Homo sapiens: one gene and its partners. The protein of the gene in region 1 interacts with the protein of each later gene in a biochemical or structural test. Each region holds a gene or a part of one and is shown on either strand. Other genes may lie near its edges.

Evidence for each region.
Region 2: the proteins of ABL1 (region 1) and LRRK1 form a complex in vitro, tested with the Homo sapiens proteins (2 studies listed by BioGRID and IntAct, with this or other methods).
Region 3: the proteins of ABL1 (region 1) and RAD51 form a complex in vitro, tested with the Homo sapiens proteins (2 studies listed by BioGRID).
Region 4: the proteins of ABL1 (region 1) and SORBS2 form a complex in vitro, tested with the Homo sapiens proteins (one study listed by BioGRID).

What each region holds. Positions count from the first base shown.
Region 1 is NC_000009.12:130,879,566-130,887,518, forward strand, and holds part of ABL1 (tyrosine-protein kinase ABL1), read left to right. Parts: intron 1-502; coding exon 503-592; intron 593-934; coding exon 935-1,099; intron 1,100-4,403; coding exon 4,404-6,118; 3' UTR 6,119-7,953. UniProt on the Homo sapiens protein: Non-receptor tyrosine-protein kinase that plays a role in many key processes linked to cell growth and survival such as cytoskeleton remodeling in response to extracellular stimuli, cell motility and adhesion, receptor endocytosis, autophagy, DNA damage response and apoptosis.
Region 2 is NC_000015.10:101,062,135-101,070,087, forward strand, and holds part of LRRK1 (leucine-rich repeat serine/threonine-protein kinase 1), read left to right. Parts: intron 1-439; coding exon 440-556; intron 557-1,267; exon of another isoform or gene 1,268-3,217; coding exon 3,218-4,071; intron 4,072-4,505; coding exon 4,506-4,607; intron 4,608-6,536; coding exon 6,537-6,714; 3' UTR 6,715-7,953.
Region 3 is NC_000015.10:40,697,970-40,705,922, forward strand, and holds part of RAD51 (DNA repair protein RAD51 homolog 1), read left to right. Parts: intron 1-787; coding exon of another isoform or gene 788-789; coding exon 790-876; intron 877-3,094; coding exon 3,095-3,232; intron 3,233-3,836; coding exon of another isoform or gene 3,837-3,957; intron 3,958-7,953.
Region 4 is NC_000004.12:185,801,767-185,809,719, reverse strand, and holds part of SORBS2 (sorbin and SH3 domain-containing protein 2), read left to right. Parts: intron 1-7,953. UniProt on the Homo sapiens protein: Adapter protein that plays a role in the assembling of signaling complexes, being a link between ABL kinases and actin cytoskeleton. Can form complex with ABL1 and CBL, thus promoting ubiquitination and degradation of ABL1.

The DNA of each region.
Region 1 (7,953 bases):
ACATTTTACCAAACTGTTAAAAAAGGTTGTGCCATTGTATGCTCCAGTCAGACGCATATGGGAGTGACTGTTCCTGGTCCCCAGTACTAGGCTTTGTCAGTCTGTTTAGTCCTCATGTTAGTCTCATTTTCATGAGAATTTCTTTACTTCAGACTTTGATAACCGTGAAGAAAGAACAAGATAGAAGGTGAGCTGTTTGGCTTAGTAATTTTCTACACCTACTAGAGCGGGACTGGGAAAAATATATTTGTAAATGCAGTTCTTGCTGTCACTGTCTCTCTGGGGTTTTACAATCCATATTCCTGCCAGCATCTAACGTCTTTTCAAATTCTTAATGTCTATAACAGGACATGATGACATTCATCGTTTTGACTTGTTGCAGCAAAAGATGGTTAGCAGGATTGGAATGTTGCTTTCATTCTAGACTTTTCCTTGAGAACTGCTAGCCCCGTATTGCTAGCCAGATCTCATGGATGATCTGACTTGGGTTTCATCTGTCCAGGTTGGCAGTGGAATCCCTCTGACCGGCCCTCCTTTGCTGAAATCCACCAAGCCTTTGAAACAATGTTCCAGGAATCCAGTATCTCAGACGGTAAAGTACCCATCCCGGGGTACCTGCAGTGGGGTGAAAGGGCAGCCATGTGGGACTGCAGCCTGGGTCATTCGGTTCACTTCCTGGTGAAAGTTCACAGACCAGCCTGTCCTGAGACCAGAAAGCTGGGCAGAGGTGTGGAGTATTGTGCTTTCTTGTCTGCTGCAGCCCTGCAGAGTTCTAAGAAATGCTAAGGGCTGTTTCTCCGGTATCCACGTGCCTTTTCTTTAGTTGTATGCAGATGAGCACTGTTACCTTACAAAGAAAGAGAACCACCACACCAAGCCAACACCAGTACTGATGGCTGCTGGATTTTTGTTTCTGTCCCTGTATGATTCTTAGAAGTGGAAAAGGAGCTGGGGAAACAAGGCGTCCGTGGGGCTGTGAGTACCTTGCTGCAGGCCCCAGAGCTGCCCACCAAGACGAGGACCTCCAGGAGAGCTGCAGAGCACAGAGACACCACTGACGTGCCTGAGATGCCTCACTCCAAGGGCCAGGGAGAGAGCGGTAAGTCCCCCGCTTCCCCCAACCCCACTGCTCTTCCCTTCCCTGCCAGAGGCTACATTCAGGCCATCATAGGCCAACGGGAAGCTGTGAATGGAGCCCGCACAGAAGGGCAGCCATGGCCTTTGTCAATGGTTCAGCTTCGGAAGGAGGAAGGTTCTCCTCTCCCCACCTGCCTCCTATCCCCTCCCTCTGAGAGTCCCCGAGGAGCATAGGCTCCAGCAGTGAGTTCAGTCCTGTAGGCAGAGGTGCTTCTGAAGCCCGCCAAGGAGCTAGCCCATCTCCCACCTATTACCCGCGGCATCTGTGGTTGCTGTCTCAGAGCAGATTCAACAATAGTAAGCACCAGGCTGCGTGACAAGCAGCTCACGGTGAAGGCACTGATGTGAGAAGCTCGCTGCAGCCAGGTGGAACCAGGACACGCACATGGACAGAACCCGTGTCCTGGTGGTCTCTGGGAAGAGCATCTTTCTGGTGCCATTGCCTAGGCGAGCAAGGGAGTTGGGATCAGCTCAGGAGGGGGTCTCAAGACACTAGCAAAAATAATAATGGCCAACATTTATGTAGTGTGCCTACTACAGGCCAGGCTCTGTTCTATGTTCATGGTTGACCCCCAGAACCAGCAGTCCAGGTTCTGCTGCAGACCAGCTGAACAAAAGCATTGAGGGGTGTATTAGTCTGTTTTCATGCTGCTAATAAAGGTATACCCAAGACTGGGTAATTTATAAAGGAAAGAGGTTTCACTGACTCACAGTTCCACATGGCTGGGGAGGCCTCACAATCATGGCTGAAGGTGAATGAGGAGCAAGGTCACATCTTACTTGGCGGCAGGCAAGAGAGCTTGTGCAGGGGAAGTCCGCTTTATAAAACCATCAGATCTCGTGAGACTTATTCACTACCACGAGAATGTGGGAGAAACCTCCCCATGATTCATTGATCTCCACCTGACCCCACCGTTGACACGTGGGGCTTATTACAATTCAAGGTGAGATTTGGGTGGGGACTCAGCCAACCCATATTGGAGGTGGGGGGTAGGCCAAGCATCTGGGTTCACAGAGGATCCTGGGGATGGCAATGGTGGACTCCATTCTAATGGACTGCAGACTGGGTACATGTGAAGGGACTGGACAAAGCCCTACTTCTTGAAGATTTATGGTGGGATGTTTACTGACAGCAGAATCTATAAACCTGAGTTTTATCACGTACTCTCATTAGTAAAAAAAAAACAAAAAAAAACAGAACATGCAGCCCATATATATGGTATATAAAGTACGTATGTCCACTACTGTAGGAGTAGAGTGCGTATGTTATGTACCAAAACGCACATTTAAAAGGCTTGCATGCTAAATAAGTCCAAATTTGCAATACTTCCCGCCCCGCTGGGCCATCTCACTCACCTACTTGGAGGTTATGGCGTATAGACTCTCCAGAATCTTCCACCCTTCCTCCTCTTATCGGTTTTCCTGATTTCAGGTGGCTGAGCAGTAGGGAGGAGAGGCCTCTGGGAACGCTGTGCTTATTAAGAACCCAGTGATCAGCAGTCATGTTCATTTACGCCCGTCAGTTTCATCTGAGGGGTATTTTGATAGTGATCTCTTGGTGAGCCGAGGGTGTCAATTAACTGCTCAGTGCTGAAACTGAGTGGTGCATAATTCATTGCAATTTCACTCTCCTGGCCTCCTTCCACTAGATTAAAGTTTTGGGAGGGCTTTGGTGTTCCCTGATTCAGATGTCCCGCGTGCTGCCTTGGGTTCTGATAAATGCATACTGGTACCTCTGTTGAGTTACAGGTGCCAACAGAAAACCTCTTCTTGCAAGCTGACCTCTGAGGGAGAATTCTGTTACTCACTAGCAGGAGCTTGGCAACACCAAAAAGATTTCCTTTTTTTTTTGAGATGGAGTCTCACTCTGTTGCCAGGCTGGAGTGCAATGGCATGATACCAGCTCACTGCAACCTCCACCTCCTGGGTTCAAGCGATTCTCCTGCCTCATCCTCCTGAGTAGCTGGGACTACAGGCGTGTGCCACCACACCCAGCTAATTTTTGCATTTTTTAGTAGAGACGGGGTTTCATCATGTTGGCCAGGATGGTCTCTATCTCTTGACCTCATGATCCGCCCACCTCAGCCTCCCAAAGTGCTGGGATGACAGGCTTGAGCCACCGCGCCTGGCTACCAGAAAGATTTCTTATGAGCTATGATTCATATTTAAAGAGTGCCCATTAAAAAACTGTTGGCCGGGCGTGGTGGCTCACACCTGTAATCCCAGCACTTTAGGAGGCCGAGGTCAGCGAATCACAAGGTCAGGCTCCCGTGGCACAAGCTGGGGGCTGCCCCCACCCCATGCTCCCCAGAGGAGCACCCAAGCGTCTGGGCTCAGACAGGCCTGGATCTGATAACCGGCTCTGATGCCACCATCCCTGAGGCCAGGCAAGTCCCAGCCGGGCTACAGCACTGTTGTGAGAATGCAGATGAGGTTGTAAAGGTGAAGCACGTGTCACGCTTCTCTCAATAAAGCCATCATTGCTGTTAGGATTGTCATTAGGAAAGGCTTTGGGCCGGGTGCAGTGGCTCATGCCTGTAATCCCAGCACTTTGGGAGGCCAAGGCGGGTGGATCACCTGAGGTCAGGAGTTTGAGACCAGCCTAACCAACATGGTGAAACCCCGTCTCTACTAAAAATACAAAATTAGCCAGGCGTGGTAGCGGGTGCCTATAGTCCTAGCTACTTGGGAGGCTGAGGCAAGAGAACCATTTGAACCTGGGAGGCGGAGGTTGCAGTGAGCTGAGATCGTGCCACTGCACTCCAGCGTAGGCAACAAGCGAGACTCCAACTCAAAAAAAAAAAAAAACCACACACACGCTTTGGTCTCTTTCCCTGAAGATGGGAACAAAAAGCTGGACGGCCCTGGCCTCTTCATCCCTGCACTGGTTTACTTGAAGGCAGCAGCCCCCCACCCACCCACATCACTCTCTAGTGAGTATAAAAACGATGACAAGGCCAAGCAAAGGGTCAAAACCTGTGGCTCTCCTGCCAGCCAGCTAGCCGAGAGGCCTATGAGGAGCTCTGGGAATAAGGGGCTGTGTCCCACAGTGGGGAAGGGACAATGGGCCATTATGCACAGGAGATAAGAAGGGATGACCTTTGACAATTTTTTTGTTTGTTTGTTTGTTTGTTTTGAGATGGAGTCTCACTCTGTCTCCTGGGCTGGAGTGCAGCAGTGGCACTCTGCCTCCCGGGTTCAAGCGATTCTCCTCTGTCAGCCTCTAGAGTTGTCTGGAGTTGTCAGCTCTTCCCCTTGCGTTTCAGATCCTCTGGACCATGAGCCTGCCGTGTCTCCATTGCTCCCTCGAAAAGAGCGAGGTCCCCCGGAGGGCGGCCTGAATGAAGATGAGCGCCTTCTCCCCAAAGACAAAAAGACCAACTTGTTCAGCGCCTTGATCAAGAAGAAGAAGAAGACAGCCCCAACCCCTCCCAAACGCAGCAGCTCCTTCCGGGAGATGGACGGCCAGCCGGAGCGCAGAGGGGCCGGCGAGGAAGAGGGCCGAGACATCAGCAACGGGGCACTGGCTTTCACCCCCTTGGACACAGCTGACCCAGCCAAGTCCCCAAAGCCCAGCAATGGGGCTGGGGTCCCCAATGGAGCCCTCCGGGAGTCCGGGGGCTCAGGCTTCCGGTCTCCCCACCTGTGGAAGAAGTCCAGCACGCTGACCAGCAGCCGCCTAGCCACCGGCGAGGAGGAGGGCGGTGGCAGCTCCAGCAAGCGCTTCCTGCGCTCTTGCTCCGCCTCCTGCGTTCCCCATGGGGCCAAGGACACGGAGTGGAGGTCAGTCACGCTGCCTCGGGACTTGCAGTCCACGGGAAGACAGTTTGACTCGTCCACATTTGGAGGGCACAAAAGTGAGAAGCCGGCTCTGCCTCGGAAGAGGGCAGGGGAGAACAGGTCTGACCAGGTGACCCGAGGCACAGTAACGCCTCCCCCCAGGCTGGTGAAAAAGAATGAGGAAGCTGCTGATGAGGTCTTCAAAGACATCATGGAGTCCAGCCCGGGCTCCAGCCCGCCCAACCTGACTCCAAAACCCCTCCGGCGGCAGGTCACCGTGGCCCCTGCCTCGGGCCTCCCCCACAAGGAAGAAGCTGGAAAGGGCAGTGCCTTAGGGACCCCTGCTGCAGCTGAGCCAGTGACCCCCACCAGCAAAGCAGGCTCAGGTGCACCAGGGGGCACCAGCAAGGGCCCCGCCGAGGAGTCCAGAGTGAGGAGGCACAAGCACTCCTCTGAGTCGCCAGGGAGGGACAAGGGGAAATTGTCCAGGCTCAAACCTGCCCCGCCGCCCCCACCAGCAGCCTCTGCAGGGAAGGCTGGAGGAAAGCCCTCGCAGAGCCCGAGCCAGGAGGCGGCCGGGGAGGCAGTCCTGGGCGCAAAGACAAAAGCCACGAGTCTGGTTGATGCTGTGAACAGTGACGCTGCCAAGCCCAGCCAGCCGGGAGAGGGCCTCAAAAAGCCCGTGCTCCCGGCCACTCCAAAGCCACAGTCCGCCAAGCCGTCGGGGACCCCCATCAGCCCAGCCCCCGTTCCCTCCACGTTGCCATCAGCATCCTCGGCCCTGGCAGGGGACCAGCCGTCTTCCACCGCCTTCATCCCTCTCATATCAACCCGAGTGTCTCTTCGGAAAACCCGCCAGCCTCCAGAGCGGATCGCCAGCGGCGCCATCACCAAGGGCGTGGTCCTGGACAGCACCGAGGCGCTGTGCCTCGCCATCTCTAGGAACTCCGAGCAGATGGCCAGCCACAGCGCAGTGCTGGAGGCCGGCAAAAACCTCTACACGTTCTGCGTGAGCTATGTGGATTCCATCCAGCAAATGAGGAACAAGTTTGCCTTCCGAGAGGCCATCAACAAACTGGAGAATAATCTCCGGGAGCTTCAGATCTGCCCGGCGACAGCAGGCAGTGGTCCAGCGGCCACTCAGGACTTCAGCAAGCTCCTCAGTTCGGTGAAGGAAATCAGTGACATAGTGCAGAGGTAGCAGCAGTCAGGGGTCAGGTGTCAGGCCCGTCGGAGCTGCCTGCAGCACATGCGGGCTCGCCCATACCCGTGACAGTGGCTGACAAGGGACTAGTGAGTCAGCACCTTGGCCCAGGAGCTCTGCGCCAGGCAGAGCTGAGGGCCCTGTGGAGTCCAGCTCTACTACCTACGTTTGCACCGCCTGCCCTCCCGCACCTTCCTCCTCCCCGCTCCGTCTCTGTCCTCGAATTTTATCTGTGGAGTTCCTGCTCCGTGGACTGCAGTCGGCATGCCAGGACCCGCCAGCCCCGCTCCCACCTAGTGCCCCAGACTGAGCTCTCCAGGCCAGGTGGGAACGGCTGATGTGGACTGTCTTTTTCATTTTTTTCTCTCTGGAGCCCCTCCTCCCCCGGCTGGGCCTCCTTCTTCCACTTCTCCAAGAATGGAAGCCTGAACTGAGGCCTTGTGTGTCAGGCCCTCTGCCTGCACTCCCTGGCCTTGCCCGTCGTGTGCTGAAGACATGTTTCAAGAACCGCATTTCGGGAAGGGCATGCACGGGCATGCACACGGCTGGTCACTCTGCCCTCTGCTGCTGCCCGGGGTGGGGTGCACTCGCCATTTCCTCACGTGCAGGACAGCTCTTGATTTGGGTGGAAAACAGGGTGCTAAAGCCAACCAGCCTTTGGGTCCTGGGCAGGTGGGAGCTGAAAAGGATCGAGGCATGGGGCATGTCCTTTCCATCTGTCCACATCCCCAGAGCCCAGCTCTTGCTCTCTTGTGACGTGCACTGTGAATCCTGGCAAGAAAGCTTGAGTCTCAAGGGTGGCAGGTCACTGTCACTGCCGACATCCCTCCCCCAGCAGAATGGAGGCAGGGGACAAGGGAGGCAGTGGCTAGTGGGGTGAACAGCTGGTGCCAAATAGCCCCAGACTGGGCCCAGGCAGGTCTGCAAGGGCCCAGAGTGAACCGTCCTTTCACACATCTGGGTGCCCTGAAAGGGCCCTTCCCCTCCCCCACTCCTCTAAGACAAAGTAGATTCTTACAAGGCCCTTTCCTTTGGAACAAGACAGCCTTCACTTTTCTGAGTTCTTGAAGCATTTCAAAGCCCTGCCTCTGTGTAGCCGCCCTGAGAGAGAATAGAGCTGCCACTGGGCACCTGCGCACAGGTGGGAGGAAAGGGCCTGGCCAGTCCTGGTCCTGGCTGCACTCTTGAACTGGGCGAATGTCTTATTTAATTACCGTGAGTGACATAGCCTCATGTTCTGTGGGGGTCATCAGGGAGGGTTAGGAAAACCACAAACGGAGCCCCTGAAAGCCTCACGTATTTCACAGAGCACGCCTGCCATCTTCTCCCCGAGGCTGCCCCAGGCCGGAGCCCAGATACGGGGGCTGTGACTCTGGGCAGGGACCCGGGGTCTCCTGGACCTTGACAGAGCAGCTAACTCCGAGAGCAGTGGGCAGGTGGCCGCCCCTGAGGCTTCACGCCGGGAGAAGCCACCTTCCCACCCCTTCATACCGCCTCGTGCCAGCAGCCTCGCACAGGCCCTAGCTTTACGCTCATCACCTAAACTTGTACTTTATTTTTCTGATAGAAATGGTTTCCTCTGGATCGTTTTATGCGGTTCTTACAGCACATCACCTCTTTGCCCCCGACGGCTGTGACGCAGCCGGAGGGAGGCACTAGTCACCGACAGCGGCCTTGAAGACAGAGCAAAGCGCCCACCCAGGTCCCCCGACTGCCTGTCTCCATGAGGTACTGGTCCCTTCCTTTTGTTAACGTGATGTGCCACTATATTTTACACGTATCTCTTGGTATGCATCTTTTATAGACGCTCTTTTCTAAGTGGCGTGTGCATA
Region 2 (7,953 bases), on another chromosome or scaffold:
TGCTGTTGCATGGGAAGAACAGTGAACATTTCCTCCTAGAGTGAGGAAAGCAAGGGCTCTGCCTAAAGCATGCTGTCTCACATGGGAAGAACAGTGAGAAGACAGCATTGCGGCGTGAGTCCACTTTGCCAGTACCAGGTGCACACACAAATACCACAGAGAACTTCTGAGAGGCTGTGCCCCCAGATCCCAATGTTGGTTTTCTCTGGGGAATAGATGACGGGCTATTTTCTGTTTCCTCTTTAGACTAGTCTGTCTTTTTCAACGTTTCTACAAAGAGCAGAAATCCATAAACAACCCACCAGAACGTGTCAATCCATGTAACTTTCCAAGACCCATAGGGGATCCCCAAGTCCAAGTGCATCCTCATGGGAATGGCTTGGGAAATGCCAGACACTTTCCAGCCTGGGTCTCACAGTGGACCTGTCTGCCTCTGCAGGACCAGAAAATCTACATCTACACCCTCAAGGGCATGTGCCCCTTAAACACACCCCAACAGGCCTTGGATACTCCAGCTGTCGTCACCTGCTTCTTGGCCGTGCCTGTTATTAAAAAGGTGAGGTCGGGGCAAAGGCAGGTATGCAGGTCTCTGATGCACTTCCACGCCTAGGAGGCGTCTCCTAGCTATGTCAGGGTGGCGCCTGCAGAGCCACACCTAGGACCACCTGGCCTAGGACGTAGACTTAGAGACGGTGGGAGGAAAGATATCAGACCTGGTCCGTCATTAGTGCCTTCCGGTTTGCAAAAACCTAAGTCAAGTCCCCAGCCAGACTGCAGGCCGAATGAAAAACCCCCTTTCACATGCAAATGCCCTGACTCAGGTGGAAGGACTGTTGGTACAAATGGCACGGTGAGCAGTCATGCGTGTGCCCTTCCCCTATCCGGAGCCTCTTCCCCACCTGCCCAGGCCAGAGCCACCTCACAGCCACTTGATCACCAGGTCCTGGAGGTCCTGATCTCCCTCCCTCCATCTCTGCCTCCCGCCAAGTACTCGCCGTCTTACACCAGACGCAGTTTCTCTTTGTGCAGCATAGCCCTGCAGACTCAGCTCTTTAACCTCCTAGCCCTGGCCTTTCTAAATGAGACCCCAAGGGGCACTCTCCCCATTAAAGGCCCAGCCAGCTGTGCTGCACCTTGGGATTAGCCCCAGCCTCTATGAGGCTGGCCTCCAGTCCCTGCTGGGCCCGGCACCCTCCCCACAAAGCACCCCACTCTGTGCTGGGCCCTTGACATCCCAGCCTCCTCCAGGAACAGCCCCTCCACGCACCTCTTCCCAGACGGCCTCCGATTCAGTTCTCAAGACCCGGGGCCTTGTCCCCTCCTTTGAGAAGCTGCCCCTCAGTGGGGGGCAGCTCCCTGGCTTTTCCGGGCTCCTCCGCCCACAGGATTCAGGCACGGCTCAGCCAGCTCTGGTTTCATCCACCCTGAGGGGCCTGTCTGTGCATAGGCGCCCTCACTAAATGCACAAGAAGCCTTTACTGGTGTTGCTTTGTTAAAATGTGACTGTCATCATCCAATTCCAGTTTGCCCATCTACAAAACAGGTATAAGAAGAGACAGAAGGCCTAGCATACCCAAAGGTCTAGGCCGGTGTGCTTGGTAAATGAGTATTATTATTACTTCTGGATGGTCGCAAAATACATGAACTCTTCTCTTCACCCTTCTTCAGTTTCATTTAAAAAAAAAAAAAACAGGTATGAAATGAACCTTAGAGTCATTTATGACCATGGCCCCACAGCGAGGCTACGCAGCTTGGGACCAGGCCCGTACCAGAGCGCAGGAGAACACGACACAAAGTGTTATTGAGGCCACCGCTGGCGAGAGCCCCCAGCCAGGGCACCACCTCCTGCACGACCAGAGGGAATAAAGCCTGCTCTGTGCAGGGCCTCCTGGGCAGGGTGTCTGCCCCCTCCAAGGCCGCCAGCGCGAAGCCTGCATTCTTGCACGCGCACCCACGTTCACACCCAGCCGGGACGTGGCACTCACCGCCCTGGCCGGGGCCTGAGCCAGGACTGCAGATAGAGACCTGGAGCCTGTTTGCCTTGGCTGCCTTCTTTCCCTAAAGTCCTGGGGATGGATTTCGATACGCTTTCTTAGAGCATGTTGTCCTGGACAGTGAGCTACGGGTCTCCACTCCATTGCCCTGCACAGCCAGCCTCCTGAGCTCCCCCAGCTCCCCACAAGGAGGCTTTCTGCCCTGCCCCCTCACTGGCATGAGGCCCAGCTCCCTGCTCTGCCCTGACTCCAGCTTTGTTCTGCAGACCTCTTCCCACCCCCACCACAGCCGACGCGGTGTCTAGGCTGCGGAGCTGCACTCTGTTCCTGGCTCTGCCCTGGGAGGTGCCCCGGGGCGGTCTGGGGTGGGCCCAGCATTCAGCAAGGTCCCTGCAACTTTGGCCTCTGCCCGGTGACCTCTGGCGGGTGTAGAAGAGCTCATGCTTCATTGAGGGGGTGGGGGGCACCCTGAGGACCCTGTCAACGTCAGCTGAACCACAGGCATCTCGATAGATGTAAGCTGGGATGAGGGCTCAGCAGGCTGAGACAGGCCTCCAGAAGAGGGTTGAGTAGGAAGCGATTTCTTCCAGAATTAGTTCAGCAAACACATGTCATCCACTTGGAGCAGGAGCCAGGTGGAGTCACAGGGCCACCAAGATGAAGGAGACTGAGCCCTTCCCTGTGCCAGGCTAGTGCCACGGGGATGCTGGTGGGCTGGGAGCCCATCCTTATGGAACACTCTGCCTGGTGGGGGGGGTGGCAGGCAGGGGGCAGTGCACAGATGCTTGCCATGCCCCCACTGCTGTCATGTTAAGCAGCACCGAGAAAAGGGCGGGGGCACCAGGTCCTGCCTCTGAAGGAGGCCTTGGTGGCCTCAAGGAGAAGGCAGCTCCCTGCTGCTCGCCCTGCAAGAAGCTGGCAGAAGCAGAGGCAGCCCATGTGGTCCAGGTGACACGCAGCCTTACTTGGTGCCACAGGCCCTGCCTCTGGGTGGCACATTCCTTTCTTTGCTGCAGGGATGGTAGATATGGCTCTGCGGAGTCAGAGCTGCACTTCTTTAGGAGTAGCCCCGGCCTTTCTAAGAGATTTGCTGCCCTGAGGCGCACTGGTGGAAAGTGACTGCCCGCCTGGTGTGGGTGCAGATGAGTCCAGTGCCTACTCTGTGTCTCTCTTGGAATGTGTGAAATGGAAGGATGTGACACATCCCTGTCTCCTTCCTTCAGAATTCCTACCTGGTCTTAGCGGGCCTCGCCGATGGGCTTGTGGCTGTGTTTCCCGTGGTGCGGGGCACCCCAAAGGACAGCTGCTCCTACCTGTGCTCACACACAGCCAACAGGTCCAAGTTCAGCATCGCGGATGAAGACGCACGGCAGAACCCCTACCCAGTGAAGGCCATGGAGGTGGTCAACAGCGGCTCTGAGGTCTGGTACAGCAATGGGCCGGGCCTCCTTGTCATCGACTGTGCCTCCCTGGAGATCTGCAGGCGGCTGGAGCCCTACATGGCCCCCTCCATGGTTACGTCAGTCGTGTGCAGCTCTGAGGGCAGAGGGGAGGAGGTCGTCTGGTGCCTGGATGACAAGGCCAACTCCTTGGTGATGTACCACTCCACCACCTACCAGCTGTGTGCCCGGTACTTCTGCGGGGTCCCCAGCCCCCTCAGGGACATGTTTCCCGTGCGGCCCTTGGACACGGAACCCCCGGCAGCCAGCCACACGGCCAACCCAAAGGTGCCTGAGGGGGACTCCATCGCGGACGTGAGCATCATGTACAGTGAGGAGCTGGGCACGCAGATCCTGATCCACCAGGAATCACTCACTGACTACTGCTCCATGTCCTCCTACTCCTCATCCCCACCCCGCCAGGCTGCCAGGTCCCCCTCAAGCCTCCCCAGCTCCCCAGCAAGTTCTTCCAGTGTGCCTTTCTCCACCGACTGCGAGGACTCAGACATGCTACATACGCCCGGTGCTGCCTCCGACAGGTCTGAGCATGACCTGACCCCCATGGACGGGGAGACCTTCAGCCAGCACCTGCAGGCCGTGAAGATCCTCGCCGTCAGAGACCTCATTTGGGTCCCCAGGTACGTTTCCCGAGGTGAGGGCACCATCCAGGGCACGCCCACTGCTCCTGCTCTGGGGACAGAGCAAGGGGAAGCCCCCTGGCTTCCTTACAGGTCATGTGGGGAGGCAGGTGCTGTTCTTCCAAGAGGGTTGGTTTCCTCCATTGGGAATGGAAGCGATCGCTTTAGCAAATCTAAGAGTGGCCGCACAAAAGCTTATTGCCTGCCAGAGAGCTTAAGGTGCCACACAAGGAAAGCCACAGTCAACTGTGACTCAGTTTCCACTGAGAAAATTCTCCTCTGCTTTGAAGTCTGTCCCCTCCCCATAACTTAATCCCTTAGCAGAAACTGCATGTCTGTTGCCTCCCTCCCGCACCTTTCTGCACACCGGCTTCACTCCCCGGAGAGCACGGCTACCGACAAATCGCTTCCCCTTCTGGGTTTTGGTTGCTTAGGCGCGGTGGAGATGTTATCGTCATTGGCCTGGAGAAGGATTCTGGCGCCCAGCGGGGCCGAGTCATTGCCGTCTTAAAAGCCCGAGAGCTGACTCCGCATGGGTAAGACTGAGTGGCAGCTCCTTTAGGACCCAGGCAGCAGCATGAGCACAGAAGGCCCTGCAGCCAGGTCCTGCACAGTGGCTTTGCTGCCCTTCCATTCTCCCAAATAGCATAGCCACTAACGTGGCTGTAAGGCAAAGTGGAAACAAGATGGGGCCCCTCAGACAGCTCCTAGGGGCTCCGCACTGGCCATGGCTGCCTGTTTCTGGAGTACCCAGTGCACCTGTAGATCAAGTACCCTACCTAGTACCCTACCTAACGAATGTCTCCAGGGCCAGAGTTCAGCTGCAATCGACATGCAGATGCATCCAGGTCATTGATTCACTGTTCTTCCTGCCAAGCAGGAAACCCTACCCGAGGTGTCCACCAGCCCACACAGCACCCTATGGGGACAGATGACACAGGCACACCTTGTCATCTCCAAGCCTGGGGTCTCAGCTCCTGCCCTTCCTGGGCTGAGACATAGCTCAGTACCTGTCTGTGGGTGGGGACCCCCAGGATTATGCCAGTCTCCTCTGTGAAGGTATGCTGGGCAGGGTGGCCTGTCCGGGACATGGTCTACATGGTTGCAGTGATGTGAGGCTGGCGCCAGCTGCAGCTCCCCACAGTGTTTACACCCCGCACTTTGACTACCGAGCCCCACACGGTAAATCTCCCCTACGAAAAGTCCTCAGTTCAAATGTGTGTGTGTGTGTGTGTGTGTGTGTGTGTGTGTGTGTGTGTACTTTGGAGCTCTTCCATTTCACACTAGGCCTGTTTCCCTGCAGCATGAGTTATCCCCCATCCCTGGGCAAGTGGGTTTTTATTTCATCTGGAGCATAAGAGGGTGGAGAAACACCAGTCAGCTTGCTTCTCCCAAAGCAGGACAATGACAAGGACATCCTTGGCAGTCGCACTCCCTTGCCTGCCAGCTTTGAACTTTTGCAGTGAGTCCTGGGCCAGTGACCCTTACTCTGTAAGTGGTTCTGGAAGCAAGATCTGGATCTGCTCCTGAGCTCTGGCAGAGCCTGTGGGTAGAAGCCTTGAACTGATGGAGTTCCCAGCTTGCAGGTCGGGCTTCTGGAGGAAATGGGTGTGCAGCACCCAGGTTAGGACCTTGGCATACCTGCCATTAATGTCCTAACGTTTAGCTGTTGTTTTTCTCCTATTCATCCCTAAAGCCAGATTTTACCTCTTTCTCGCTAGAGGGAGGCTCCTCCCCTAAGGGGAGGTCCTGGCAAGGCCACGCGGAGTGAGAGGTCCCTGGACATCCCAGTTTGCAGGAGCACCTCAGTGCCACGCAGGCCGCACACACGGGACACAGAGGGAGGAAAGGCAATTAGTATGTGCTTGGGGTGGGGCACCACCAGGGCAGGGAGGCCACACTGTGGCCCAAAAGGAAACCTGTAGCACACACCCACCGATCCTGCAAAACTGTCCACAGTTTCAAAAAATGTATATAGTGATGACTTTGGGGCAGTAGGTTTTCCATTTAATATATGATCCTGTATTTCCTAAGCCTGTAGAAACAGAATGAGAGAAGAATCTTACTGAGCTTAGTGGCAAGGGAGTTGAGTTAAACTCGGTCATGAGCCATTCACAAGCAGAAATTTGGGTCAGTGGTGTTTTCTGGACGCTTTGGGAGCTGAGTCAAGGATGCATGATCTGATTGCCTCTGTGGCCTTCCAGGGAGTCTGACTCTTACAGACAAAGCCCATGGACGCGAACTCATGCCCACAGCCCGTCTTTGGACTTTATAAAGCCTAAGCCCACAGGCTGGCCACTGGGGAGAAGTGGTGCATCTCAGCACACCCCAGAGAGGGCTGGCAAGCAGACACACTCCCCTGCCCTTAGCCAGCTCCGCCTTCCTCAGAAGGCACAGGGGGAGGGTCCCAACCCCACCCGAGTGGGAACCCCTGTGAGTTTCCTCAGACCCCCTTCTCTCTGCAGGGTGCTGGTGGATGCTGCCGTGGTGGCAAAGGACACTGTTGTGTGCACCTTTGAAAATGAAAACACAGAGTGGTGCCTGGCCGTCTGGAGGGGCTGGGGCGCCAGGGAGTTCGACATTTTCTACCAGTCCTACGAGGAGCTGGGCCGGCTGGAGGCTTGCACTCGCAAGAGAAGGTAATTCCTGTGGAATGACTGTCACACATCAGAGCTGGCTGGCCCGGGGCTGCAGCCTGACCCCTCTGCCATCGGCCTCTAGTTCTCCAAGGACCTAGAAGACAGATGGAGTTCTCCCCTGAACTCCTTGCTGCTAAGAAGTGCTGAGAAGTTACTCGCCTGGCGGTGGCTCCAGGGTTCTCTGGTTCTCTGGAGCAGAGTTCTCTGAATACCCCATCCCCCAACTGCTGATTTTACAGCCCCAGGGAAGACAGTGGTATCAGGCTGGGAGCGGCCTCCTCTGGCCTCCCCCATCAGTTTGCAGGAGCAGGGGTGCAGGATCCTGTTCTGAGCTGGGTCAAACAAAGCAGGGCCGGGCCTTCCTGCCATCCCCAGGTCTCAGATGGAATTACACTAGAGGCCCTCCGCTGGGAAGCACTTGAGGTAGGGCAGGAGGGGGGCTGTGACCCCTGCCCTTTCCCCGCCAGAGACCTCAGGCTCTCAGCACATTCCACAGGCTCCTGAGTCCCCGAGGCCTGGGCCAGCTTGGGCAAGCCAAGATCAGATGTCTCTGTGTTCGGGAAGGTCTCCGTGTGGGAAAGCCCTTGGGGGATCCCGGGTGAGGAGTGTTGCCCCATCCAGAGAATGAATGAGTTCCTTTAAGTGCCACCGCCAGCAAGCCCAGAGGCACACAGTCCGAGTGCACCCGCTTAGCCTTTACATTCCTCTCCACCGACAAAAGGAAGGGGAAACTCAATCAGCAGGACTTCAGAAAGGGCCTTGTGTTTATAGCTTTGTCAAGTAAATTTGGACGCAGCTGGAGCACAGGCCCTGTTTGTTTGCACATAATAATCTTGTTTATCACTTTAAAAAATTCAGTAATATCTCAGCAGTCAGGCTTCTGGTTGTGAAATCACATTGTATGGGATTTATACCAAATTATGTATTTGCTAAACATTCACTGCACACGTGTACAGCGGAGTACGAAAAGGAACGTTGTCCACAGGGGATTTATGGATACAACAGCAAACATTTTATAAACTATGCACATGCATTACACACATGCACACACATATGCACACACATGTGCAAACATAGCCACTTTTTTGTCAAGAGTTACCCTTTGGGGCTCCTTAAACCAGAATGGGAGTTTGAAAGAGAGATCATACTCCAGCTGAAGTTTGTTGACCCTTTTCTAAAATTAAAAAGATCAAATTTAGTATTTGCTGGATATGCAGGGAGATGAGACTCTTTTAATCTCAAA
Region 3 (7,953 bases), on another chromosome or scaffold:
ATACTCGCTTCTGGCTATTTTGAAGTATACATTACATTAGTGTTTACTGTAGTCACCCTACTGTGAAATAGAACCCTAGAACTTATTCCTCCTATCTAACTGAAACTTTGTGCCTGTTGACCAACCTCTCTCCTTCCTGCCGCCCCCTGCAACAGCTGCATTCTCCTCAGTCTCTGGTTACCACTGTTCTATTTGTTCCTTGTATGAGATGAACTTTTTTTTTTTTGTTTTTTTTTTTGAGACACAGTCTCACTCTGTCATGAGGCTGGAGTACAGTGGCACGATCTCGGCTCACTGCGATCTCTGTCTTCCGGGTTGAAGCCATTTACCTGCCTCAGCCTCCCGAGTAGCTGGGACTACAGGCGTGTGCCACCACACCCTGCTAATATTTGTATTTTTAGTAGGGACGGGGTTTCGCATGTTGGCCGGGATGGTCTTGATCTCCTGACCTGGTGATCTGCCCGCCTCGGCCTCCCAAAGTGCTGGGATCACAGGCATGAGCCACCGCGCCCCGCCAAGATCAACTTTTTTAGATTCTACATATGAGTGAGATCATGCAGTATTTGTCTGCAAACACATTTATAATGTATAATGGGGTATATAAAAATAAGTAAAACTTGGCCCCTACACTGAAGGAATATAAAGCAGGAGAACAGAGAGGCACAATAAGAGAATGGCCTTGGCTTTTCCTAAAGTCTTTTTGATACGACTAGCTAGATAGAAGATGGGGAGAGAGATGCACCTTATTTCTCTAGTGTTTATACTGATAAGCATTTGTATTTTTCAGTAATGGCAATGCAGATGCAGCTTGAAGCAAATGCAGATACTTCAGTGGAAGAAGAAAGCTTTGGCCCACAACCCATTTCACGGTTAGAGGTATGTGGTTAGTTGCTAATTTTGGAATTATATACTAGATTCTTCTACCTAGTGGAAGGTATTACAACCTTTACATAAAATATAGGTTTACTACCAAGGTCAAGACCCAAATTAGACTTTTCAGAAGTGTTGTCAATAATCCTGTGGAAAGGCTGCAGATCATTGCTAAATATGTCTGGCAGGGCCTCTTCCTTTGTCAACAATTCTCTTCCTACTTTATCATTTTTATTTCTGAGAGTTGGACTGTCAGAAACTAAGGCCTAGGATCCCATGGTGGAATCTCTGTGCTGTTTTTGTTTGTTTGTTTGTTTGTTTTTGATGGAGTTTCGCTCTTGTTGCCCAGGCTGGAGTGCAATGGCGTGATCTCGGCTCACCGCAACCTCTGCGTCCCAGGTTCAAGCGATTCTCCTGCCTCAGCCTCCCAAGTAGCTGGAATTACAGGCATGAGCCACCACACCCAGCTAATTTTATATTTTTAGTAGAGACAGGGTTTCTCCATGTTGGTCAGGCTAGTCTCGAACTCCTGACCTCAGGTGATCCACCCTCTTTGGCCTCCCAAAGTGCTGGGATTACAGGCATGGGCCACTGCGCCCAGCCTGTGCTGTTTTTTTGTTTGTTTTTTAAGAAATGGGTCTTAACTGTGTTGACCATGTTGATCTTGAACTCCTGGCCTCAAGCAGTCCACCTGCCTTGGCGTCCCAAACTGCTAGGATTACAGGCATGAGCCACCATGCCTGGCCAAAGCATCCTGTGCTATTTGCACTAAGTATGAAAGTGCTGTTCTGGGAATTATAGCGGCCTGGACCAGTTATGCAAGGAAGACAGGGAAGCACCTTCTCTCCATTAACCTAGATTTGTGCTGTCAGCTGTCATTGGCAGAGAGAAGGGTGTGGTGGTGTTATGGTATAAGAGACAAGCTCCAATTCAGGATTCTGCACAAGAACATTAAGCACCAGAGCTGAGGCCTTACACTATTTCTGCCCATTGTATAGAGACTGCCCTGTGAGTGCAGCTGATTTGGGCTAAGTAGGAGGAAAGCAGAGAAAGACTTGATTCTTCTGTCTCTTTTTTTCATATTTCCCATCTCTGACTAATCTTCAAGACTCTAGAAGTTAGGAGTGCAAAAGGCTAATAAAAAAAAAAGACTCTAGAAGTTACTTAAATGGATTTGTGATAAACATTTGAAAGTTCAGAGTCATAACTTCTGGTGCCATGAGCATCCTTATACTCAAACATGCATATTGCTTAAATATTAATAGCAGACATGGCTTATGTTGGCAAACTAATCTCTCCCCTCTTCTAAATTCTCCCAACCCCTGAATGCACCCACATTCACCTACTAACTCATGTTTTCCCAGAAGTCATGGTTTTGGTGGCTAATGAAACCAAAGCTGACTTGAATATAGGAAGAAAGAGGTGTCTTTGGGTGGTTTGTTTTGAGAAGAGGTATAAAAGTCCCTGACAAAAAGTAGTTTTCCTCACTGTTAATGTCAGTTGTTAGAGCAGAGCTTTCTGGTCATTGTTCAACAAAAAGTATTGACAGGCCAAGATAGTGCTCTTTATATTCTGAGCAGCCTTATCTATTTACCCTACCATAGTGTAAAAATACAGTTTTTTATGTGTGCTTGATGTGGAAAGTGTTGAGCAACACTGTCTTAAAGTGGTCTTGTAGGGCCCAAGGTCTCAGAGATCATTTAGGGTCACAAAAAAAGGTTGGGAGTTACTTTTTAATTCCAATTGCTAATAGGAGTTCTTTTTAATGTACATGGCTTAGTGCTAGTTTAAAATTATTGATTTTGATAATGAAAAGGTTGTTAATTTGTTATTAAGTACCTCATATATAGGGCTCATTTTTCAGCTTTTGCATATAATAACAGTAGGCTCTCTGTATCTCCGGATTCTGTATCAGCAAATTCAACAAACTACGTATCAAAAATTCAATCAACTACATATCAAAAAAAAGTATACAGGAGGATGTACATAGGTTATATGCAGGTAATACGCCATTTTATATAAGGGACTTGAGCATTGTTGGATTTTGTTATCTGCTGGGGGTCCTGGAACCAACTTCCCATCTCCCCCCGCCCCCCCAAGGATTTCAAGGGACAGTTGTATTACAAGTCTTCAAGCACCTCTGTGAAGTATGTAGGACACATAACATCTGTGTTAGATTAGAGAACTAAAGCTTAAATTTATCCATGGTTTTCTTCATTTGCAGCAGTGTGGCATAAATGCCAACGATGTGAAGAAATTGGAAGAAGCTGGATTCCATACTGTGGAGGCTGTTGCCTATGCGCCAAAGAAGGAGCTAATAAATATTAAGGGAATTAGTGAAGCCAAAGCTGATAAAATTCTGGTAAGTACTGCTTACTTAACCTAGGGAGGCATTAGTGGGAATAGTACAAAAGGGAATGTAGTGAAAGACTTCTTCCTTCTATCTCTTATTCTTCGGTCATCTCATTATCCTTTCCAGGGGTGACTGTTACCTGTTTCTTTTCTTCTTTTCTTTTCTTTTCTTTTTTTTTTCTTTCTTTTTTTTTTTTTTTGGAGACGGGTTCTCGCTCTGTCACACAGGGTGGAGTGCAGTGGTGCCATCTCAGCTCACTGCAACCTTCACCTCCCAAGCTCAAGCGATCCTCTCACCTCAGCCTCCCAAGTAGCTGGGACTACACTACAGGCACATGCCACCATGCCGGGGTAGTCTCGAACTCCTGAGCTCAGGCGATTCACCTACCTCAGCCTCCCAAAGTGCTGGATTATAGGTGTGAGCTACTGTGCCTGGCCTATTTATTTTTCTAGCTTCATATAGTTCTTTAACATACATACTTCCCCATGGTTACATTTTGTTTTATGAACCTATTTCTTCAGTGTTTATATAGTTACACAGTTTTATTGCCTTTACCCTTGAAGTTTTATGTAGTATAAAGCAGATTTTTTTTTTTTTTTTTTTTTTTTTTGAGACGGAGTCTCGCTCTGTTGCCAGGCTGGAGTGCAATAGCGTGATCTTGGTCTACTGCACCCTCCGCCTCTCAGGTTCAAGTGATTCTCCTGCCTCAGCCTCCCGAGTAGTTGGGACTACAGGTATGTGCCACCACACCCAGCTAATTTTTGTATTTTTATTAGAGACAGGGTTTCACCACGTTGGCCAGGATGGTCTCGATCTCCTGACCTTGTGATCTGCCCACCTCAGCCTCCTAAAGTGCTGGGATTACAGGTGTGAGCCACCGCGCCCCACCGCAAATATTTATTTATAAAATTGTATTTTCACGTATCGATTACTGTTAGCGTTAGATAAATTTATTGGATTACTCAAATGAATATTTGCTGAAGTGGTTGCTTAATTGGAAATAAGGGTTCTGAGTCCCTAACAGTATTTTTGTTAAAAGATTGTCATATTGACTAAGCCAGTAGGGGTCCCTAAAGTCTTTCTGTTTTCGCTTTTTGGGTATCAGTTTTTGTGAATGAACAAATGCTGACAGGATCTTTTCTTTTTGCCTTGCGAGATCTTGGTTTCAGAAATCAAGTCACTTCTCTGTTTCTATGAACACAACAATGCAAACCTAGAATACATGATTTGAGATGCAATATGGTATAGACTTACGTGTCTTTACTTTTCAATATTTTATGTTCTTTGTTTCTGGCCAGTAAAGATTATGATTGTATTGTTTGTTTTCTGTTTTTTTTTGAGGCAGAGTGTCGCTGTGTCACCCAGGCTGGAGCACAATGGTGCAATTTTGGCTCTGCTCACTGCAACCTCTGCCTTCCGGGTTCAAGTGATTGTCGTGCCTCAGCCTCCCAAGTAGCTGGGATTACAGGCTCCCACCACCACACGTGGCTAATTTTTGTATTTTCAGTTGAGACGGGGTTTCACCATGTTGCCCAGGCTGGTCTCAAACTCCTGGCCTCAAGCAATCTGCCCACCTCAGCCTCCCAAAGTGCTGAAATTACAGGCACTAGCCACTGTGCCCACCTTTTTTTTTTTTTTTTAAAGAAAAAAAAGAAAAGTCTCACTCTGTTGCCCAGGCTGGAGTGCAGTGGCATGATCAAAGCTCACTGCAGCTTCAGCTTCAAACTCCTGGGCTCAAGGAATTCTCAGCCTGCTGAGTAGCTGGGACTATAGGCACATGCCACTAGCCTGACCATTTCTACCAGTTTTGTCTTTGCTAATACATTCTCCTGTTTTTCACCAAAGGAAGTAGTCTATATTCCTTGAGCTCCCATGGCTTGTTAGTACTTCTCATATTACCCATCACATCTACTTGTACTATAGTTATTTTGTATAGTTTATCTTTCTGATTAAGTTATAAGCTCTGTGGAGGCAGGAATCAGCTCTTCTTTTTCTCCATATCCTTCAGAGTCCCTGGGACTATGTTTCATACGAAGTAAGTGTCTAGTACATGTTTGTTGCACTGAAATGACAGTGAGTATATGAATTGGCCAGGCTGGTCTCAAAATCCTGGCCTCAGGTAATCCGCCCATCTCAGTATCCCAAAGTGCTGGGATTACAGGCGTGAGCCACTGCACCTGGCCGTGCAATGAATTTTTAAATGAAATATTAAGTATATAGAAAAGTTTAGAGAATAAACTTTCATTGATTTTTCAGCTATTTGTTGATTTTTTTTCTTCATGGGAAATTTAAACATTATGAAAGTTTAATCTTTTTACTTTCTATGGGTCTATTTAGATTTTCTTCTTGAGTGAGTTTTGGTAGTTTATCTTTCTAAGAATTTGCTTATTTCATCTAAGTTACCTAACTTGTTGACATAGAGATGCTCACAGGGTTTCCTTATACTACTTTTTATTTACATAAAGTCAGTAGTAATGTCCCCTCTTTCATTCTTGATTTTAGTAATTTGAGTCTTTTCTCTTTTTTTCTCGGGCAATGCAGCTAAAAGTTTGTCAATTTTGTTGATATTTTCAAAGAACCAGCTTTTGGTTTCATTGATTTTTCTCTATTATTCTGCCCTCTACTTAATAGTTTCTACCCTAACCTGTATTATTTCCATCTTTCTGCTTGCTTTGTTTTGTTTGCTTTTCTTTGGAAGGTTAGGTTATGATTTATCTTTTTTATTTTTAGAGGCAGAGTCTTGTTCTGTCACTTACGTTGGAGTGCAGTGGTGTGATCATAGCTCACTGCAGCCTCCAACTCCTGGCTCAAACAAACCTTCTGCCTCAGCCTCCCAGGTAACTAGGACCACAGGCACGCCCCACCATGCCCTGCTATTTATTTTATTTTATTTTATTTTTGAGACGGAGTCTCCCTCTGTGCCCAGGCTGGAGTGCAGTGGCGTGATCTCTGCTCACTGCAACCTCTGCCTCTTGGGTTCAAGCGATTCTCCTGCCTCAGCCTCCTGAGTGGCTGGGATTACAGGCACGTGCCGCCATGCCCAGCTAATTTTTAGTAGAGACAGGGTTTCACCGTGTTAGCCAGGATGGTCTTGATCTCCTGACCTCATGATCTGCCTGCCTCAGCCTCCCAAAGTGCTGGGATTACAGTCGTGAGCCACCGCGCCAGGCCTTTTTTTTTTTTTTTTCTGATGCAGTCTCACTCTCTTGCCCAGGCTGGAGTGCGGTGGTGTGATCTCGGCTCACTGCAACCTCCGCCGCCCGGGTTCAAGCAGTTCTCCTGTTTCAGCCTCCTGAGTAGTTGGGACTACAGGCGCACGCCACCACGCCCAGCTATTTTTTGTATTTTTAGTAGAAATGGGGTTTCACCATATTGGGCAGGCTGGTCTTGAACTCCTGACTTCGTGATCTGCCCACCTCACCCTACCAAAGTGCTGGGATTCAGGCATGAGCCACCATGCCCAGCCATGCCCTACTAATTTTTTTTTTTTTTTTTGAGATGGAATCTCGCTGTGTCTCTCAGGCTGGAGTGCAGTGGTGCAAATTCAGCTCACTGCAACCTCCGCCTCCCAGATTCAAGTGATTCTTCCACCTCAGCCTCCCGAGTAGCTGGGACTACAGGCGCGTGCCACCACGCCCGGCTAATTTTTGTATTTTTAGTAGAGAGGAAGTTTCACCATGTTGGTCAGGCTGGTCTTGAACTCCTGACCTTGTGATCTGCCCACCTCAGCCTCCCAAAGTTCTGAGATTACAGAGGTGAGCCACCACACCCAGCCACCCTGCTAATTTTAAAACATTTTTAGAGCCAGGGTGCTGCTTTGTTACTCAGGCTGGTCTCAAACTCCTGGCTTCCAGCAGTCCTCCCACCTCAGCCTCCCAAAGTGCTGGGATTACAGGTGTGATTCACCACACCCAGCCTTCTTTTCTAATATAGCTGTTTATAGCTATGAATTTCTCTCTAAGCACTGCTTTTCTTGGAGCCCATACGTTTTGGTATATCTTCGTTTTCATTCATTGCAAAAACATTTTCTGATTTCCCTTGTCATTTCTTCTTTGACTTGTTGCTTATTTAGGAGTGTGTTGCTTTATTTTTGCATATTTGTGAATGCACTTACTTTTCAATTTTAGAATCAACCCATAGTGCTATTACAGAACACTTATCTGTAATTACAAAATAGAATGTGAATGTTCTCAGCCAGACAATATGAAAGAAAAGGTACAGCTGATAGAGGTGGGGAAGTAGCCATGGAGAGAGAAAAGATTGAAGGGCAAATGTCCTCATTTTTACAAAGTAGGAAGTTAAGGGATACAGTCTGCGGTTGATGGAGCAGGAAATGAAGGTGTACTGTATTGTCATTTTTGTCATAAATTGGGCAAAACACATATGTACGGATCTCTAATAGTTTTTTGTTTTGTTTTGTTTTGTTTTTTGAGACAGAGTCTCGCTCTGTCCCCCAGGCTGGAGTACAGTGGCGCGATCTCGGCTCACTGCAAGCTCCGCCTCCCGGGTTCACGCCTTTCTCCTGCCTCAGCCTACCAAGTAGCTGGGACTTCAGGCACCCGCCACCACGCCCGACTAATTTTTTGTATTTTTTTAGTAGAGATGGGGTTTCACCATGTTAGCCAGGATGGTCTCGATCTCCTGACGTTGTGATCCGCCTGCCTTGGCCTTCCAAAGTGCTGGGATTACAGGCGTGAGCCATCGCACCCGGCCGGATCTATAATAGTTTT
Region 4 (7,953 bases), on another chromosome or scaffold:
CCTTTTAAGATGACATGCTATACACAGATGACCATTTTAAGTTCAATTCTGTACAGCGCATCTCCATAGTTAATAATTCAACAATTTTGAGAACCAGGTTCAGAGACATAATCTCTATCCTTCAAGACTTTGCACTTTCGCTTATGGCTATTTTTAGACCCTTATTTTCTGCCACTTTCCAACTCTTCTGCTGGCAATATCAAATATTTTGGAATTTCCAAAACATACTATATCAGATTTTTTTTTTTTTTTTTTTTTTTTTTTGCAAATGCAGTGCCCCCTGAAGAGTCATTTCCTTTAAATCTCCCCTGCAAGGACAGCTGCTTTCATACGCCCTTCAAGTCCAGCTAGACATCCCCCCTCACTGTCCCCCACCCTGCTTGGCTACATCTGAATCTTACTTCTGACTTTCTGTCTGCTGAACCATATTGCATTTGTCCCTGTTCACAGCCTTCCAGAGCTTTGCTGGCCTCTGATTCTAAAGTACTTTGTCCAGTGTCCAGAATTTTGCATTCAGACATTGTACTGGTAACCTCAGACTTCAATATTTTCCTATTAGTTACTGTAAATATAGACTTGACCTAGAAATAGAAGTCCTAATACTGCCTTTTATCAAGGAAACTTAAAACATTTGAAAAACAACAATGAGGCTTTCATTTTTCTGATTTGAAAATATGGCTTCAGGATCCCAATTTCATAAAAGCTACAACTGTCCTATAATAAATCCAAATTTCCCGAGGGAAAATTTTACAATGTATGTTTTAAACAAAACAACTTGAATGTTTTAGTATATAAATAATACTATTTTTCTATCCATGGCTATTATAAAATGTATAGAAAATATCCCTATTACAAATTTGTTATGGAATCAGACTGTTTAAAACTAATGTTGAGTTGATGATGATTAGTAGCCGATTATAATGTAAGACACTTATGAAGTTGTTTTTCTTGCTGAAACCAGAAGAAAGTAAAGGTCGTGAACTGGAAAGAGATTAAATAATTGAAATGAAGTCTACAATGGCAGCATTTCTTTTAATGTTCCTAAGTAAACCTAAAAGGTGACTGGAAATCACTAGTTACGTTACACTAGTTATGTTACCCTACAACTTGAGTACCTGGGTAAGGGAGAGAATATTCTCTTAGAATCACTCTTGATATAGATATAGGTTTGTTTACAGAGACTTCCTACCCTCTGTTCTATATTAGATAACATTATTAGTATTTTTTAAATAAGCCTGATTTCAGTAGCCTTTTTATGAAAAAACTGCCACAATCAAAAATAAGAATGTACCCATAGTTTTATTAAGAAGTTATAAATACATAATTCCTTGTCTTTAAGATATCTGTGTTGAAAGCAAAAGTTCTAATTAATACTGTATGAATTTTTGTATATAAAGTAGAATTGATGAGGAAGTTTAAAATATCCTGATATTTGGGATTAGAAAGTAAAATATTTAGGAAATTATTTAAATTCATATTTCTTGACATTATTGCATTCATTCCAGCATTGAGTTTTCTAATAAAAGTAAGATAAATAGCAATTCTTAATTATCATGCTGTCCTTTAAAGCTTATTTTGGCTATCTTCCAGCTGATTTTAATGTACAGCATGCTATAATTAAATAATAGCTAAAGTTGGAATTGGTTCTATTCATCTTAAAGACTAATCATGTTTAATTATTTTAAATTGCATATAGTAATTAGATTTCAGAAACCATGATTTTGTAATATGCCTGTACTGTTTCTAACATTTTCTATTTTAAGTCATTTATAATATTTTTAAAGGTCTCAGTTATGTCTAACTACATGGATAGCATAATGAAATGAGTTGCACTTGTATTTTATAAAGAAGACTTGTGATATATGATTGCATTAGATAATTTTCTGGAAGTTCCTCAAACTAACAATTTAATTATGGATATGCCTGTTAAATCCTAAACTGCCACTGTCACGTGGAAAAATACAGATAAATATGTTTTCAAAATATGTTTTTCTGTATTATTTCTGAAAAACTCAAGACATGGACATGCAGTTAAAAGGAAACACTTCTGCAACTGTTGAGTTCTGAGTATTGGCAAATAAGAACTCACGTTTCAGCTTAAGTTCAATTAAGATGATATTTGCTGAATAAATGACGGGGAACCAGCAAAGACGGGTTTTTACTTTGGTGTTTGCAGCATAACAGATCCATATGGAACTCCACCACACTTCACTGCACCTTGGTCTTCAAAACGGAAATATACTAGTTTACCAAGTAGGAATTTTGGCCAAAAAAGCAGTGGTTTCCTCTTCCCTATACAGGTGAGGTAGACATAAATTCAGCATTAAATTCTGTACCTTAGAGAAGCATTATTTGAGCAAAAATTCAGAAAGCTTTCACTTTCCTGAATCCAATCAAGGGTCTTACTTTCAAAGATTTTCCCACCTCAAAAAAACAAAAACACAATAAAAAAGAAAGAAAACAAAAAGGCCTGGTAATGTTCTCATTATATTTTCTAATTTCTCTTTATATATTCATATTATAATTTAGGGAAACTTATTTTTAACAAAGAACATTATCTGAAAGTTTCGGTGATATTTTGTTTTTTTCTGTTCATTTATACGGTTGCCTACTTATTAAATTTTTGATTTTTTAAATTTAATCAGAAATTCAGTTTTTCTCTCTTCCCTCTGAGATGTTTTCCCAGTGGTTAAAGTAAATTACAAGTCTTATAATGAATTATATCCTCTGCTTTGAATGGGAGAGTTCATCCAATCCATTGTTAGAAATAGTTCTTCTTTTCAGGTTCCTTGTCCTAGTACATTTTTTCTGGAATAGTTGAATTTGAGGACAGGGGCAACATAAACCCGTCAGGCTCCAAATCTTCTGATGTTCTATTCAATTCAGCATCCCTCAGAGACTAATATAGCTGCAAGGATTAGCCGCAAGGAGTCCAACAAACTATAGCAAAAACAGGATTCTAGGCCGGGCGCGGTGGCTCACGCCTGTAATCCCAGCACTTTGGGAGGCCGAGGCGGGCGGATCACGAGGTCAGGAGATCGAGACCATCCCGGCTAAAACGGTGAAACCCCGTCTCTACTAAAAAATACAAAAAATTAGCCGGGCGTAGTGGCGGGCGCCTGTAGTCCCAGCTACTCGGGAGGCTGAGGCAGGAGAATGGCGTGAACCCGGGAGGAGGAGCTTGCAGTGAGCCGAGATCCCGCCACTGCACTCCAGCCTGGGCGACAGAGCGAGACTCCGTCTCAAAAAAAAAAAAAAAAAAAAAAAAAAAAAAAAAAAAAAATAGGATTCTAGCCAAGAGCTGTGCCACTCGTGAAGATCCTCTAAGAGTACAAGCATGGGATGCCATGAAGAATGGCAAGTGTTTTAAATGCACAGAAAGAAAAACATATTCAAATGAGATTTTGGCTATGTTGGAGAAAATTTATTAGTATAAATATTCATTCTAGTCTCCTCTAAACAGAAGTCCCTGTACTTACTTCTCGCTGAGGACAGCCAGCTTCTCAGAGGCACTGAGTCCTCTGAAGAGGTAACACCACAGAGGCAGCAGCCTGGCTGGTGGAAATGTGCTTCATTAAGCCTTCGGCTGCATGGAGAATCCTCTTCCACCTATTGAGAGGAGTCAGCGACTTCTGCCTCACTGGGTCTTTTTAATACCAGATATTTATACTTCATACAGGTTGCCTACACTTTATGCTACTAAACAACAAAAGTTTAAGAGAGCAACGCTTGGCTGCTTAAAAATGAGCCTTTTTGGTAGATTATCAAGATGCCTTCACACCCAATTATTTCAGTTCTCTGTGCTAAAGTTAACGAGGGAAAGGAGATTAGATAACAATAACCTCAGCTGTTGTTGTGCTATAACTGTGTCATCTGGTGAAGGGTTTGAGCACTTTCCAAAACGCGTGCATTTAACCCGTCAGACGTATTCTTGCACTATAGTAAATACTACATATTTTAGTTTGCTCAATATCTCAAAATCTAGGTTTCAAAATTTTTATAGCATAGTATTACTAGTAGTTAAGATGAAAATTGTATAACTGCTTGGTTGCTCTGCTACAGTGTGAATAGACCGGTGTTGTTGGATGGACCTAGAGCGCCAGGCTTAAACCAGTTTACGCAAAGGGAGGTCAGGAGAGTGGTGAATGGCAAGAGAATGGAAAAAGGTACAGGTTACTTCTGCAGAATAAAAGTTACAGGGAAAACTTGACTCGCTTTAGAATGGCAGCCGGAACAGAGAGGCCCTCAGCAAACAGGTCAACATACTGCATATTCAGTCAGTATTTGCTGAATGAATGAACGGCTTACAGCAATCAGATCTTCCCCGGTGTTGTGCTAATGCCAACACATGATTAGAAAGTGCTCTTTGAATCTACAGATAAAGTGACAATTCAGACATTTTTCTGATTTTTTAAAAATCAGAAAACAAAGGAGAAGAAAAAACACATGAAAATTTAAAAAGGCTATTATTAAACATATATATATATATAGTCTTCCTGGTGAGAAGCATTATACTTTAACAATTATATAAGACAGAAATATTACCAGAAGCATAGATAAAGCTCAAATGCAACACATCATATGGTGAATAATTCAGAAGATAAGAAAAACTGATTTCTAATCTCAATTTTTTTAAAGCCTCTTGGTACAGTCACATTCATCAAGAAATATAATCAACCTAAAGAGTTAAAATTTTCTTTTGTAAAATAAAAAAGAATAAGAAAGAAAAGTTTAAATCCAGAGTTATAAAATTGAAGATCTTCATTTTAAGGCTTTAGAATATAGTTGAACAGAGAGTTCAAGACAGAAAGAGGTATCAGTCTGGGAAGACCTTTTCAAGTTAAAAAAAACCATAGAAGCTGCAAGACCTTACACAGTCAATCAAAATATCTGCTTCTGATTTAACTCAAGAAAACAATAGAAACCTATTAACTAGTATTCAGTCAACTACGCAAAAGATTATTCAAAAAATGTTCAATTTGTTCACTCCAAAAGATATTGATAATAATAATAATTTATATAGATTTCACTCTGTACTTGCTACCATCCCAAGAGTTTTATGCATATTAACTTTTAATGAAAAATCTGGAAAATCACAAAATCTATAAGTATAATACCAAATACTAAAAAGTAGGGACTTTTAAGGACGTTTACATTGGAATTTCTCAGAAACATTTTCTGCAATCTTAAATTATTTCCCAAAGAGGGATTTAACATTGAATCGCTTTGTCTTAGATGCGCCGATACCACTTTACATGTTGTATTATTTTTATATCATGTTAATGAAGTGTTTTGACGTGTCCAGTCTTTCCATGTGAAAGTGACCTCCACGAGAGAGCAGTCTTGTTTACGTGTTTTTACCCACCATCTTGCCATGTCCACTACCAAGAGTGAACGAAGGATGGCTGAGTAACTAGGCCAAGTCGGTTATTGTAACAAATAAAATTCACACCCAAGGAAAGGGACCTGCTGAAAGCAAGGTAACCTGCGTGTGGTTCCATGTGACTTTCATCAGGAGAAAACTGATCTGGTCTACATATCTTTAAATGTTTGTTTTGTTATGGGTTTTTTGTTTGTTTGTTTTTGGTCAGTATGCTTTTTGGGTAAAACACTAAGCTAAGTATCAAAGCAATCCTTTTTAAGTCATCGAGACTTTTTCAACGGAGGAAACATGACGCAACCAAAAATGATTTGGCTCATTTAAACCACTTGTAGAATTTTTCCTCCGAATTTAACCTTCTGAGCAACTTAACTACATATGAGTTATGTCTGACAGTTAAGAAAATAATAAAAATATGAGAAGGCACACTTATCTTCTTTGTCAGAGAAACCATATCTGTTTTGGGAGAAGGGCTGTCTTAGGGCAGTAACTCAGATGACTGATAATATATCCTGAATTCTTTCACACTCACTTTATTTAGAAACATAACTTTTTATATGATATGTGTTCTGAAATCCGATTATATCACTCACTGACTTCCTTTCCACCATAGATTTAATTTTACAGGACTAATATAACTCATTTATATAATGATTAATATGGCTTTTTTAATTAAAAAAATCTTCCTTCTAAAGTGTGCCAAGGATTTTGACTACATTTTCAATTAATTTTTAGATTTATTGGCAGAAGAGCAGAATTACCATCACCCTTATGTTGTAAAAGTAAATGACAATCAAAGCCATAAATAATATAGTTTAGTTTGAAAAACCACCTTCCTGTTGACCCGAAGTCCCAAATGTCCTGTCAGTGCTTTATATTGACGGTTATCTGGTAAAATGATTGGATCTATGTATTATTATGTGGCATAATATTACATCATAATGATTTCGAACCCTAAGCTTGTGCTTCCTTTGAAGATCGAATTAGGAAAACATACCCTTAAAACGGTGCCTCACTTTTTTTTGGCTCTGGTATTTAATTTTGCAACTGTCAGGAACAAAGAGATTATGATCAGAAAATTATGTTTCCTGGGGAATGTTCTGTTAATGAATTGCCTCATTCCCAGGCTCCTCAGTCATGGTATTGCATTCTGCCTTTAGCCCAGCCTGTGAGAAGAGGTGCTGGGTTTGCATGGTGCAGAAAAGGCCTGAGAGGAGGAGAGAACAGGAGCGTAAGGATAGGACCCAGAAGGACTCTGGCCCTCTAAGTATTTGTTACCAATGGGATCACTGAACCACTAGAGCTTTTGAGTTCAGTAGGAATTAGGAAAAGTGTTGCCTTGAAATTTAAATGTTTCTGCTTCCAACCAAAAGCAAAGCATTGGAGAAATCTGCATGCACTCTCGCTAACCCCTCAGAGAGTGAAAGAGTATTTTATCTGGTCAACAAAACAGAATGGCCTCTTGTTGATTGACATGGAGAAATATCACCCGTTTAAAGGTCAGATTATTAATTTGTCAGTGCATTCTCTTGGGAAATAAAATCAGAATTTCATCTGGCAAGTGTCATGACAGGTGACACATGATTTTTAAGACTATCACCAAAAAACTATATCTGCCCAATATACAGATCAGTACCATGAGTTCCTAAGTGCCAAGTGGCCCACAGTATCTGGAGTTTCCCCTCCTGGTAGATGGGCTTGAGCAGGCAATGATGAGTTCTCTGCTCTCCTCTTCCAGACCTTGAAGACTGTTGTCCCATTTGTTAGTATGTTAGTGTAAGTTAGCTGATTGTATTCTTTCTAATTTGTTTGGTATTGAAAAGATGGCCTTGATAGGGAACGTGGAGAGCGAGAAAGACCTAAGTTCTGGGTACAACTTAACAAGTGGTCAGACCCAACTGTGGATGTCGAAGTTGTAACTGTATATTAAAAAAATCATACTTGCATTTTCATATAATTTACTCATTCATTTATTATACATCCATCAAGGACCGGAGGAAAAGATGAGAGAATAAGCCAGGAAGCCATTGAAAGAGCTTACAATTTAGTGCAGGAAGACAGGAACGCTAGTTACTGTAATTTAAGATAGAAGGTGATGGAGTGCTATAAGGCAGATATAATCAATGCATTTATTTATTCCTTCAAAAGACATGCGCAGAAGTAACTTATACAATAAAGAAACTCTTTGATCGTCTTAAGCAATGGAGTTCCAGAAGATGATAATAAATTGCTCAGAGAATTGAAGTTTGTTAGAGGATCGGGAAAGATGGATTAGAGAAAATGGTATTTTAATTGGGGCTCGAACAAGGTGGGATTTTGACAATAGTGTGGAAAAGCAAGCTTTGTAGCATCAAGAATTGTTTTATACCACTCACATGTATTTGGCACCCCCTCAGTGCTTTCATGTAAATTGTTGAGTCTGGCTCAACAGCCCTGGGAGGTATGCACTATCATCACTGTTTCACATGAGAAAAGAAGAAACTGAGGCTCAGGGAAGTGCTCATTGGGTTTTACCTGTTACGAGTCAGTGGCCAACTTTGAGATGAACTTTTTGAAAAGAACTTTGTTCTTGA